Linked DNA regions of Homo sapiens. The gene in region 2 interacts genetically with the main gene of each other region. Each region holds a gene or a part of one and is shown on either strand. Other genes may lie near its edges.

The links. A genetic interaction does not mean that the proteins touch.
Region 1: changes in SEC22B (region 2) and DICER1 together harm fitness less than expected from each alone (positive genetic interaction), as found in Homo sapiens cells (one large-scale study listed by BioGRID).

What each region holds. Positions count from the first base shown.
Region 1 is NC_000014.9:95,088,629-95,091,529, reverse strand, and holds part of DICER1 (endoribonuclease Dicer), read left to right. Parts: intron 1-164; coding exon 165-327; intron 328-420; coding exon 421-496; intron 497-866; coding exon 867-1,032; 3' UTR 1,033-2,901. UniProt on the Homo sapiens protein: Double-stranded RNA (dsRNA) endoribonuclease playing a central role in short dsRNA-mediated post-transcriptional gene silencing.
Region 2 is NC_000001.11:120,162,286-120,167,666, forward strand, and holds part of SEC22B (vesicle-trafficking protein SEC22b), read right to left. Parts: intron 1,086-5,381; coding exon 925-1,085; intron 1-924. UniProt on the Homo sapiens protein: SNARE involved in targeting and fusion of ER-derived transport vesicles with the Golgi complex as well as Golgi-derived retrograde transport vesicles with the ER.

The DNA of each region.
Region 1 (2,901 bases), on a different chromosome or scaffold from region 2:
AACATTTGTTTTACTATTACAATATAGTAGGCATACCATAAATGGTATTTCCCCCCTTACTAAAGAAGTAACAAAAGTCATATATCCAAGAAAAGAAACTACATCTGTGGACTGCCTGTAAAAGTGGCCTTTTTGCTTACAAGTCACTTTTCCCTCTGTAATAGCTTAGGAGATCTGAGGAGGATGAAGAGAAAGAAGAGGATATTGAAGTTCCAAAGGCCATGGGGGATATTTTTGAGTCGCTTGCTGGTGCCATTTACATGGATAGTGGGATGTCACTGGAGACAGTCTGGCAGGTGTACTATCCCATGATGCGGCCACTAATAGGTATTGTTGGCTCCCTTTAGAAAGAAAAAAACCCACAAAATTAAAAACAACTTCAGAGATATTATTCATATTATTCTTTCATTTTGATTGCAGAAAAGTTTTCTGCAAATGTACCCCGTTCCCCTGTGCGAGAATTGCTTGAAATGGAACCAGAAACTGCCAAATTTAGGTAAGCAAAAAATGTACATGGAAAAAACATTAACTTAAAAACATCAAAGGGGAAAAGTTCACAAAGATATTGTAAACTAATGATTCTGAAAAATATTTACACTGTGGTGTGCTGTTGTCAGATTTCTGTTTGTAATCTGATTGACTTCTCTTTTTTCCTTCTGTTTTTATGAAATAATGCTGTAATAAAGACTAGACGGCAGCCCTGTCTGTCGGGGGTATGCAATTGCAGTAAGTCGTAACGCGTGTTTCCTTTGTGTGGTGTCAGCTTATACATGGGACTCCTGGCCTGAGAGTGCACACTAAATGCTGATTGACAATGATAATAAATACTTCTGACTTCTAATTCAAGCTGTTTGGATTTTTTACAGCCCGGCTGAGAGAACTTACGACGGGAAGGTCAGAGTCACTGTGGAAGTAGTAGGAAAGGGGAAATTTAAAGGTGTTGGTCGAAGTTACAGGATTGCCAAATCTGCAGCAGCAAGAAGAGCCCTCCGAAGCCTCAAAGCTAATCAACCTCAGGTTCCCAATAGCTGAAACCGCTTTTTAAAATTCAAAACAAGAAACAAAACAAAAAAAATTAAGGGGAAAATTATTTAAATCGGAAAGGAAGACTTAAAGTTGTTAGTGAGTGGAATGAATTGAAGGCAGAATTTAAAGTTTGGTTGATAACAGGATAGATAACAGAATAAAACATTTAACATATGTATAAAATTTTGGAACTAATTGTAGTTTTAGTTTTTTGCGCAAACACAATCTTATCTTCTTTCCTCACTTCTGCTTTGTTTAAATCACAAGAGTGCTTTAATGATGACATTTAGCAAGTGCTCAAAATAATTGACAGGTTTTGTTTTTTTTTTTTTGAGTTTATGTCAGCTTTGCTTAGTGTTAGAAGGCCATGGAGCTTAAACCTCCAGCAGTCCCTAGGATGATGTAGATTCTTCTCCATCTCTCCGTGTGTGCAGTAGTGCCAGTCCTGCAGTAGTTGATAAGCTGAATAGAAAGATAAGGTTTTCGAGAGGAGAAGTGCGCCAATGTTGTCTTTTCTTTCCACGTTATACTGTGTAAGGTGATGTTCCCGGTCGCTGTTGCACCTGATAGTAAGGGACAGATTTTTAATGAACATTGGCTGGCATGTTGGTGAATCACATTTTAGTTTTCTGATGCCACATAGTCTTGCATAAAAAAGGGTTCTTGCCTTAAAAGTGAAACCTTCATGGATAGTCTTTAATCTCTGATCTTTTTGGAACAAACTGTTTTACATTCCTTTCATTTTATTATGCATTAGACGTTGAGACAGCGTGATACTTACAACTCACTAGTATAGTTGTAACTTATTACAGGATCATACTAAAATTTCTGTCATATGTATACTGAAGACATTTTAAAAACCAGAATATGTAGTCTACGGATATTTTTTATCATAAAAATGATCTTTGGCTAAACACCCCATTTTACTAAAGTCCTCCTGCCAGGTAGTTCCCACTGATGGAAATGTTTATGGCAAATAATTTTGCCTTCTAGGCTGTTGCTCTAACAAAATAAACCTTAGACATATCACACCTAAAATATGCTGCAGATTTTATAATTGATTGGTTACTTATTTAAGAAGCAAAACACAGCACCTTTACCCTTAGTCTCCTCACATAAATTTCTTACTATACTTTTCATAATGTTGCATGCATATTTCACCTACCAAAGCTGTGCTGTTAATGCCGTGAAAGTTTAACGTTTGCGATAAACTGCCGTAATTTTGATACATCTGTGATTTAGGTCATTAATTTAGATAAACTAGCTCATTATTTCCATCTTTGGAAAAGGAAAAAAAAAAAAACTTCTTTAGGCATTTGCCTAAGTTTCTTTAATTAGACTTGTAGGCACTCTTCACTTAAATACCTCAGTTCTTCTTTTCTTTTGCATGCATTTTTCCCCTGTTTGGTGCTATGTTTATGTATTATGCTTGAAATTTTAATTTTTTTTTTTTTGCACTGTAACTATAATACCTCTTAATTTACCTTTTTAAAAGCTGTGGGTCAGTCTTGCACTCCCATCAACATACCAGTAGAGGTTTGCTGCAATTTGCCCCGTTAATTATGCTTGAAGTTTAAGAAAGCTGAGCAGAGGTGTCTCATATTTCCCAGCACATGATTCTGAACTTGATGCTTCGTGGAATGCTGCATTTATATGTAAGTGACATTTGAATACTGTCCTTCCTGCTTTATCTGCATCATCCACCCACAGAGAAATGCCTCTGTGCGAGTGCACCGACAGAAAACTGTCAGCTCTGCTTTCTAAGGAACCCTGAGTGAGGGGGGTATTAAGCTTCTCCAGTGTTTTTTGTTGTCTCCAATCTTAAACTTAAATTGAGATCTAAATTATTAAACGAGTTTTTGAGCAAATTAGGTG
Region 2 (5,381 bases):
CTGTTTCCTGTATGACCCTGATACATTTGTCTTATTTTTGAGGGAGGTTTATGGGAGTATTACTGTCTATAAAAATAAAATTTGAAAAACTGGACATTATATAAAGCAGCACTTGGAGAGTATATAGTTATGAAACACTAGAGTGTTTTTCCAAAGCAAGATGACCCATTTATCTAGCAAACTTGAAACACTTCAAAAATTCTAAGCCAGTAAAACCAATTTCTCTTTTAACTAAAAATTTCAGCGATATAGCCTGATCCTACTTGTTCTCACTCCCTGTACTTACTGTACTTAGGACATTTCCTTTGATCCCTTACCATCAGATACTTTACCAGGTCTGATTAGTAATTAGTCTTTCTATAATTCTTGCACAAATACAGACACCTATGCTCACTATTCCTGAATGTAGTAAATATTATACCCCAATACCATGAGTACCAGGTATCTTCTATTTCTTTGTTATGTTTTGTTTTTTTAATTAGAGGATCTTATTCTACTAAAAGAAACAAAACATCATTCTTTCTGATTTCCCAATTCTGATCTCCATAAAATGAGCCTTATTGTGAGTGTGAGTCTGTGGACTGGGGTAAAGAAGAACTCAGCCATTATATGCCAATCAAGTAGATCTTTAGGCACAGTTCCTGTCACATGTGACTCTAAAGAAGAATCAAACCAAATAACAGAAAGGGCAAAAGGCAACAATTTCTATGGGGGAAAGATCAAAAGACTAGAGAAAATTACTTTTCAGAACAAAGCCTTAGTCACTCAAAAAGACAAAAAGAAGTGGAATGGAAAAGGATGCAGAAGCTAAAACTTCAGCAAGTAAACATCAGAAAAAATGTATAAATATTATATCAGTGTAACAAATAGCTTCTCCATATTGTTTGCTCCCTTGATAGAGAGAAGTGAGGGGCAAAAACTTACCAAATTCAATAAAGGAATAGGGTCGGGACACAGTGGGCACCTTCTTTCCATGCTGTTCATCAAATTCTGAGTGCAAATCTTCTAGGTAGGCAAAAGCCAACTTCTTAGGGAAGGCAGCTTCACATAAAACCAAATAACACACCCCCTGCTCAATAATGTAGCTGGTGAGACATAAAAAGCAAGACAAAGTTATCTGTAAAGTAATAGCACTGACAACAGTTTAAAGCAGAATCTCTGTACCATGCAAACTTTTTAAAAAATCTAGCCTAAATACTTTGAGGCTGGCTAAACGAGAGTCAATTTAAAACCGCAAATCCTTGGAATCAGAAAGCAAACATCTTCCCATTATTAGATGTATATTCTTTTTTTTTTCTTTTTTTTTTTGAGACGGAGTCTCGCTCTGTCCCCTGGGCTGGAGTGCAGTGGCATTATCTCGGCTCACTGCAACCTCCGCCTCCCGGGTTCAAGCCATTCTCCTGCCTCAGCCTCCCGAGCAGCTGGGACTACAGGCGTGCGCCACTATGCCCAGCTAATTTTTGTATTTTTAGTAGAGACGGGGTTTCACCACGTTGGTTGGCCAGGATGGTCTTGATATCTTGACCTCGTGATCCGCCCGCCTCAGCCTCCCAAAGTGCTGGGATTACAGGCGTGAGCCACTGCACCCAGCCTATTAGCCGTATATTCTAAAAGGAGTATTTAGACATATTTATTATAATTTTTCATCCATTAGATTCTCTTTTTTTTTTTTTTTTTTTTTTTTGGAGACAGGGCTCTTTCCATCACCCAGATTACCCAGGCTGGAATGCAGTGGCATGATCTCAGTTACAGCAATCTCCACCTCCCAGGTTCAGGTGATTCTCACACCTCAGCTTCACAAATAGCTGGGATTACAGACACCCACCACCACACCCAGCTAATTTTTGTATTTTTAGTAGAGATGGGGTTTCACCATTTTGGCCAGGCTGGTCTGAAACTCGTGACCTCAATCGATCCACCCAATTCAGTCTCCCAAAGTGCTGAGATTACAGGTGTAAGCCACTGGACCCAGCCCATTACACAATTCTTCAACTAACATTTTAAACTTTTATTTTAGCTTGAGGATGTATATGTGCGGGTTTGTTACCTGGGTATATTGCATAATGCCGAGGTTTGGGGTACAAACAATCCCGTCACCCAAGTACTAAGCATACTACCTAATAGTTTTTCAACCCCTGCCCCCTCCTTCCCTCCTCTTCTAGTAAGTCCTCAGTATATTTATGTCCATGAGTGCCCAATGTTTAGCTTATAAACTTATAAATGAGAATATACAGTATTTAGTTTTCTGTTCCTGCATTAATTCACTTAGGTAATGACTTCCAGCTCCATCCATGTTGCTGCAAAGGACATGATTTCATTTCTTTTTATGACTGCATAGTATTCCATACTGTATATATACTACATTTTCTTTATCCAATCCACCACTAACATGTACCTAGGTTGATATCTTTGCTATTGTGAATAGTGCTGCAATGAATATGCAAGTGCATGATTTTTGGTAGAAAGATTTGTTTCCTTTTGGATATAAACCCATTAATGGGTTTGCTGGGTCTAATGGTAGTTCTGTTTTAAGTTCTTTGAAAAATCTCTAAACTGCTTTCCACAGTGGCTGAATTTACATTCCCACGAACAGTGTATAAGCAATTCCTTTTTCTCCACAGCCTCATCAGCATCTGTTGTTTTTTGACTTTTTAATAATAGCCCTGTGACTGTTGTGAGATGGTATCTTATTGTGGTTTTGATTTGCATTTCTCCAATAATTAGTGATGTGCATTTTTTCATTAGTTTGCTAGCCTCTAGTATGTTTTGAGAAATATCTGCTCATGTCTTTTGTCCATTTTTTAAATGGGGTTGTTTTTTGCTTAATACTTAAGACTTTTTCTTGAAAAATTCAGAGTTGTGACTCCATCCACCCTTTGATTCTATATGGTAAACTAGCATACACATATTTAAACTCTTTCCAGCCACAAAGGAAAACACTGTAACTGGAAATTTCTGTGGATAGAAATGTAAGGTTAATGACATAATGTTTACTGGGTACAAGACTAATAAGACTCCTTAATTTACAGTCCAGGAGAACTCTGTAATCAACTGGAAACTTATCAACAATGGAACTGACTTTCTTTTGTGATGATGAGCGCCCATGCACTCTGGAAGGGGCTGTATGATTACACATCTGAGAAATTCTTAGAAAAATGTTAGGCTACTAAGTGGTTTTCCAACTTCTTTTTAGCCATAGTATACATACACACACATGCAAATATATATATTTATATATGGAATATGTATATATAACAAGCAAAACATATTCAGAAGGCCAATGTATATATCAGATAAAATCAGAGGTTCTTTAGTTTAAGTAGGAGTTTGCAAATATTTTCTCCCATTGTGCAAGTTGTCTCTTCACTGTGTTGTTTCCTTTGCTGTGCAGAAGCTTTTAGTTTAATACAGTCCCATTTGTCTACTTTCTTTTCTGTTGCCTGTGCTTTGAAGTCTTTGCCATAAAGTCTTCGCCCAGGTTCATGTCCTGAAACATTTCCCCTATGTTTTCTTCTAGTAGTTTTATAGTTTAGGGTCTTATGCTTAAGTCTTTAATCTACTTTAAGTTGATTTTTGTATATGATGAGATAGGGATCTAGTTTCATTCATCTGATGAGGAACTAATATCCAGAACATACGAGGAACTCAAACAACTCAACAGCAAAACCAAAAATAATTCAATTAAAAAGTAGGCAAGGAACAGAATTGACATTTCTCAAAAGACATGCGAATGGCCAAGTATATGAAAAAATGCTCAACATCACTAATCTTCAGGTAAATGTAAATAAAAACCACAACGACATATTATTTCACCCCAGTTAAAATGTCTATTAAAAAGACAAAAGTCAATAAATGCTGTTGAGGATGAAGAGAAAAGAGAACTTTTATACACTATAGAAAACAGTATGGAGGTTTCTCAAAAAACTAAAAACAGAACTACCATACAATCTAGCAATCCCACTGCTGGGTATTTCTCCAAAGGAAAAAAACTCATTATGTTAAAAACTTATCTGTACCCCCATGTTTACGGCAGCACCATTCATAATATCTATGGATAGATAATCAAGAGAAATGTCCATCAAGAGAATAATGGATTTTAAAAGTGTTTTTTACACACACACACACACACACACACACACACACACCATGGAATACTATTCAGCCATAAAAAAGAATGAATTTCTATCATTAGCAGCAACATGGATAAATCTGGAGGACATTAAGTTAAATAAAATCAGTCATGCACAGAAAGATAAATATGGCATGTTCTCATTCATATGTAGGAGCCAAAAAAAATTTTTGAGCTCATGGAAGTAGAGAGTAGAATTGTGGGTATTAGAAGTAGGGAAAGGTAGAGAGAAGGGGAGGATGGGCAGAGGCAAGTTAATGGATAAAAAATTACAACTGGATAGGAAGAATGAGTTCTGGTGTTCTGCAGAACTGTAGGGTGAATATGGCTAGCTATAACTTACCACGTATTTTCAAAAAGCTACAAGATTTTGAATGTTCACAACACAAAGAAATGATAAATGTTTGAGGTGATGAATATGCTAATTACTCTGATTTGATTACACATTGTATACATGTATTGAAATATCACTCTGTATCCCATAAATATGTATAATTATTACATGTCAACTGAAAATAAAAGGGAAAAATTTAAAACATAAGGAGGAGTTTAGGGGCCCAAAGCATTATATATACTCCCATCCTTGCCCTTTCTATGTGGCTCCTGAGGCATCCTAGGGCTCCATAAAGGATAAAGACTATTATATGATCTCTCAGGCCCCTTAAAATAATATTAATAATACAGCTGTCTTATTCCTTGCTTGGGCACCTGAGTTAACTGGTCTCTTTGCTTTTAGTCTACACCATCTTCTATACCATCAGTTTTATTCCCAGAGACTACAGATGACCATATTACCCTGCTTACAAACTCTAAGGGTTCCCTAATACCTACAAAATAAAATCATACTCCATGGTATTATATTTACAGCCTTTCAAAACAAGTGTAAGCAACATTCTATCATATATTTTAATAAACCAAATGGCGGACTGTTCTCCAACATGCTAGGTTCTTTACATATTTGTGGACTTCTGCTTATATTGTTTTTTCTAACCGTTAATGCTCTTTTAAATACCTGGAGAAATCCTGTTCATTTTCATATGTTCAATTCTACCATAATTTTTTCTGTGAAACTTCTTTATATATACTCCCCTCCTCTGTCCCGTTTCTTCAAACTTACCCCCTACAAATGGGAATTTGTTCCTTCCTTCTCTCTGTTCCCAAAACATTTCATTTAAATCTAATTTACAACATCTTTTCAATTAAGATATTATAGTATACTTGTTTGAGTATATGTCTCTCTCTCTACTAAGAG